Linked DNA regions of Homo sapiens: region 2 is linked to region 1. A link means that fine-mapping ties the variant in region 1 to the expression of a gene that starts in the linked region. Tissue or cell type: lung. Region 1 holds a variant in brackets; the other region holds the start of a gene. All regions are shown on one strand. Distances are from middle to middle. Region 1 overlaps RECK (reversion inducing cysteine rich protein with kazal motifs). Region 2 holds the start of RECK (reversion inducing cysteine rich protein with kazal motifs).

What was found. PIP is the estimated chance that this variant, and not a neighbour inherited with it, causes the effect.
Region 2: it holds the start of RECK, and the variant in region 1 is fine-mapped to the expression of RECK in lung (TOPMed, PIP above 0.99).

What each region holds. Positions count from the first base shown.
Region 1 is chr9:36,057,555-36,060,054 of GRCh38, forward strand. It overlaps RECK (reversion inducing cysteine rich protein with kazal motifs), which reads left to right. Exons shown (of 21, transcript NM_021111.3): 3 at 1,273-1,347. Among named protein-coding and RNA genes, the nearest start is that of RECK, 22 kb to the left of the region's middle. The variant T/G (reference allele first, on the strand shown) is at 1,265.
Region 2 is chr9:36,035,230-36,038,251 of GRCh38, forward strand. RECK (reversion inducing cysteine rich protein with kazal motifs) reads left to right here and starts at 1,684. Exons shown (of 21, transcript NM_021111.3): 1 at 1,684-1,869. The coding sequence starts at 1,770. RefSeq lists silencers at 1,604-1,803, 1,814-1,963.

The sequences.
Region 1 (2,500 bases):
TGCGTGTGGTCCCAGCACTTTGGGAGGCTGAGGCGGGCGGATCGCTTTGAGCTTAGGAGTTCAAGACCAGCCATGGCAACATGGTGAAACCCTGTCTCTACAAAAAAATACAGAAATTAGCCTGGCATTTGTGGCTCATGCCCAAGGTCCCAGCTACTTGGGATGCTGAGGCTGGAGAATTGCTTCAGCCTGGGAAGTGGAGGTTACAGTGAGCTGAGATCACACCACTACACCCCAGCCTGGGTGATAGAATGGGACTCTGTCTTAAAAAAATAAATAAAATAAAAGAACATGAACAGACACTTCTCAAAAGAAGACATTTATGCAGCCAAAAAACACATGAAAAAATGCTCACCATCACTGGCCATCAGAGAAATGCAAATCAAAACCACAATGAGATACCATTTCACACCAGTTAGAATGGCAATCATTAAAAAGTCAGGAAACAACAGGTGCTGGAGAGGATGTGGAGAAATAGGAACACTTTTACACTGTTGGTGGGACTGTAAACTAGTTCAACCATTGTGGAAGTCAGTGTGGCGATTCCTCAGGGATCTAGAACTAGAAATACCATTTGACCCAGCCATCCCATTACTGGGTATATACCCAAAGGACTATAAATCATGCTGCTATAAAGATACATGCACACTATGTTTTTTGCGGCATTATTCACAATAGCAAAGACTTGGAACCAACCCAGATGTCCAACAATGACAGACTGGATTAAGAAAATGTGGCACATATACACCATGGAATACTATGCAGCCATAAAAAATGATGAGTTCATGTCCTTTGTAGGGACATGGATGAAATTGGAAATCATCATTCTCAGTAAACTATCGCAAGAACAAAAAACCAAACACCGCATATTCTCACTCATAGGTGGGAATTGAACAATGAGAACACATGGACACAGGAAGGGGAACATCACACTCTGGGGACTGTTGTGGGGTGGGGGGAGGGGGGAGGGATAGCACTGGGAGATATACCTAATGCTAGATGACGAGTTAGTGGGTGCAGCGCACCAGCATGGCACATGTATACATATGTAACTAACCTGCACATTGTGCACATGTACCCTAAAACTTAAAGTATAATAATAATTAATAAATAAATAAATAAATAAATAAAAATTTAAAAATAAATAAATAAAATAAAAAGGAAGTTGGAAAATATTCTAGACAACTGATAAATCTAGAGGATAATAAGTTTTACCTCTTCTTATTTCTTATAGAAAAATGCCACAAAAACTTTTTTTTTTTTG[T/G]CAAATAGATTTTCTCCTCAAAAAGTGAATCCCGACTAAAACATCTGTTGCAGCGAGCCCCAGATTATTGCCCAGAGACAATGGTAAGTCTTATTGTAACTTAACTGTAGAAGCTTCTGTCTAAATGAAACTATCCAATGAATTACTTTCAGAGTTAGCAAATTTTTAAATGTGATTGGAATTTGTGGTCAAAATAAAATGTTAAGTTTAACTTAAATACTTAAAAAAAATCTTCATATAAATTGCTAGATAGAATATTGTTTTTCTTCTTTTATTATCCTATGATATAAATCTAAAAACAATCTTAAATATAAATGTGTTCCTATCTTTAAATTTCATTATAGTATTTTATCTGGGGTCGGGCGTGGTGGCTGATGCCTGTAATCCCAGCACTTTGGGAGTCTGAGGCGGGTGGATTACCTGAGGTCAGGATTTCGAGACCAGCCTGGCCAGCATAGTGAAACCCGTCTCTACTAAAAATACAAAAATTAGCCAGACATGGTGGCACACGCCTGTAGTCCCAGCTACTCCAGAGGCTGAGGCAGGAGAATTGCTTGAACCCAGGAGGCGGAGGTTGCAGTGAGCTGAGATAGCATCACTGCACTCCAGTCTGGGCAGCAGAGTAAGACTCCGTCTCAAAAAAAAAAAAAAAATTATCTGGAACTTAGAATTTTATTTATTATTATAGTTTGACTAATTTTATGAAAACTATAATAACTAAATCTGTTTATTTTGATTTTGGAAAATTGAATTTGGGATAAGGGAAAATATATGACTTATTATCTTCCAATTTTCTGACATACTGTAGATATATTGCTTACCTATCTGAATCATGTAACTTTAAGACCTTTTAAAGGTCTCTAATACTTGGGCTGTCCTCAGTGTTTGGGATGCTCATGTGCCAGACCAAGAAAGTGTGAGTTTGTTTGCAAGAGCCTCTTTAGATATGGTGGCTTATATTATGTGAAGGGGAAAATAAGTTGATGATTAAATAGTTCTGACTGACACATTCCCTTTAGTCTTCAGTTTTGTCTATAGGCTTGGAAACAGTGATTCCAGTAAGTATCCTGAGTAACTAGACTCATCGTTAATGCTCTCAGATGGGAAAAGAACAAGGAATATTTCTGTATCTCAGCTTTGTTCCCCCCGAATAGCTGATTGATGTGCCTGTAGTTCTAGAACATTGACTGTGTAGACATAGCCATAATCAAATTAGCTGTTCATAATTTCTGTAGA
Region 2 (3,022 bases), 22 kb before region 1:
AGCTATTTCTTGTAAATGCATATATTAAAGAAAAACAGAACAAGCTCAACCAATCAGAAGTAGTCCACAAACTTGTATAACTAGAGGCTTTTTAGTGGGATAGACCAAATAAGGCAACTTTATAACTGTAACCAATCAAATATTTTCTTTTTATTACTTTCCCATTCACTCTGTAAAAATCTGCTTCTTCGACAGAGCTGAGCCCCAGAACCACTTCTGGTTTGCAGCTTCTCAATTCATGAATCACCGCGTGCTGAAGTAAACTTTAAAATTTTATTGTGCCTCAGTTTACCTTGTACACAGAAGCAACAGAGTCATCAGAGGAGATGTTTTAGATATTTTAACTTATTCATGTTTTCCTTTTGTAAACTCGAAAGAGAGGATAAATGTAAGAGCCCAAAAACATAAAAACCAACTTTAATATATGGATTTTGTTTAGAACTTGAAAAATTGTAAAAAGAAATCATGAGACAATAAGAAAAATGTAAATAATGACTGGATATTTAATAATATTAAGGAATTTTAAAAATGTTTTAAGTAATTTAGCCCCAGGTGTCTTCATGAGAATTTAAAACGGTGGTCATGCTTTTTCAAAAAAGGAGGAAAAAGGGTTTAATTCAGGAACACACAGAGAAAAAAAGAGACAATGAATTAGCTTTGCTAGCCAGTGGCTTAAACATTCTCCACGTAGCTGCTGGGCTGATGGGTGGGGTGGGACCCACTTCCAACTTGTCTCTTGGACAAAGTCTATACTTCTCAGCCGGATATTCAAGGCTTTCCACATCTAGGTATACAAGCGTTCTCCTATCCTCTTTTCCTATCAGGAATAGGTGCTTAATAGTAACATCAAGGCCAGGCACAGTGGCTCACGCCTGCAATCCCCGTACTTTGGGAGGAGGAGGCTGGGGGATTGCTTGAGGCGAGGAGTTCGAGACCAGCTTGAGAAATATGGTGAAACCCCTTCTCTGCAAAAAAAATATAAAAATTAGCCAGGCGTGGTCACCTGCGCCCGTGGTCCCAGCTATTCAGGAGGCTGAGGTGGGAGGATCGCTTGAGCCCGGGAGGCGGAGGTTGCAGTGAGCCGAGATCGCGCCACTGCACCCCAGCTTGGGCGACAGAGCGACTCTTGCCTAAATAAATAAATAAATAATTTTTAAAGTACAACAAAGACACATTGAGGCTATAGTGCCAAAGAGCTCTAGTGATGAACCCTTGTCAGGGGGCCGTGTCTGCGGGAGGCCGAAGGATCCCGGGTGACATGCTTTCTTTGGGTGCGAGGCAGCGTCTCGGCAGAAAGAATATTGCGAGTATTACTGAGGGTACATGAAGGAGAGAAGCCCCTTTGGTTCGGCCTTGGACTAAGCCCTTGTTCTCAGGTGAACTTGCAGTGTGATCTTGAGTAAGGTCAGTCTCCTCTCTCACCTCAGTGGCCCGAAACCTCAGGAGGTGGCAGAGGTTTTCTAATGACTCTCCCAGCTCTGACATCCTCTGACTTCACTCTGGGAGAACGTGGGCTGGTGGACTCCTGGCAGAAGCCGACACACAGTTGGGCCATAACAAAGAGCCCTGGTACGGGGCACGTTCCCGCCCCCGGGAGGTTTTGGAAACACTGTGAGGCAGGGGGCGGGGCTTGAGCGGGCCGCAGCCAGTCACCAAAGGGCCGGGCGCTGGGGGCGGGGCCTCGCGCGAGCGGCGGCGGTAGCGGCGGCAGCGGCTGCGGCCAAGCTGGGTCCGAGCATCCCGCGGCTCTGGAGCCGCCCGGCCCGGACATGGCGACCGTCCGGGCCTCTCTGCGAGGTGCGCTGCTCCTTCTGCTGGCCGTGGCGGGGGTCGCGGAGGTGGCAGGGGGCCTGGCTCCGGGCAGTGCGGGTGAGTAACCTCCAGAGCAACGGTTCGAAGCTGTCGGGAGCGGCCGCCACAGCGCTCCAAGATGGCGCGGGGCAGGGGGCGGGGGTGCGCGCGACCCCCAGACCCTGCCCACGTCCGGCGACCCCGGGACCCCAGGTCTCAGCGCTCCAGAGGCTGGTGCCGAGGCGGGGCGAGTGAGGAACTCTCTCCGCCCCAAGATCTTCTGGGCGGTGACTCGGGTTTGAGGCCTTGGTCTGTCACCCACCGACACGGGCCCCCTCTTCGGCACTGACCCCTTCGCTTGCCTCTGCTGCTTGTCAGAAAAGGGTGCGATGCCCCCGCCCAGGATCGTCGCGAGGTTTAGATGGGATTTCGGATACGCAGCCGCCCTACCGCGGCCCTAGTTAGTTATTGTTACTTGTTACTTGACCCGCACTTGGTTCATAACGACCTTGGTGGCGGTGAGCACTGACGGTCCCCACAGCCCGCGTGGTGGGTCCTGGACTCGGGCAGGAGACATTAAAAATCAGTAAACCCTGTCCCCCGGGGGCTGGCAGGCTTGAGGAGAGAAATTCTTGCTCTACAAGAACTAAACCAAGGATGGATAGGAAACTGTTAAGTGCTTATTGATTGCTTCCCGCTTGCTGGCCTTTTGAGTGCACGCCGACTCCTTCCGTCCAAAAGCTCTCTCGGTAGGAGATGGGGTACAGCAGGAGATTGAAGTAACTCGAATTCAAGGCAGAAATGTCCAGAGGAAATGAAGGGCCATGTATGAGTGCACAGAGGGAGAGAGGACATCGACCTAGGATGAGTGGAAAGTGGAGTGATTCCCCCTAGCTGTACTAGACATTGAAAGATGGCTAGGACGTGTGCATGCAAAAGTGGTGAAGTGCATTGCTTACAGGGAGACAGGCAGAGACACCTTAAAAAAAAAAAAAAAAAAAGCAAAGTCAGCCGGGTGCGGTAGGCTCTCCCCTGTAATCCCAGCACTTTGGGAGGTGGAGGCGGGCGGATCCCTTGAGCCCAGGAGTTCGAGGCCATCCTGCTTAACATAGTGAAACCCCGTTTCTACTAAAAATACAAAAATTAGCCGGGCATGGTGGTGTATGCCTGTTGTTCCAGCTACCCGCGAGGCTGAGATACGAGGATTGCTCGAGCCCCGGGAAGTTGAGGC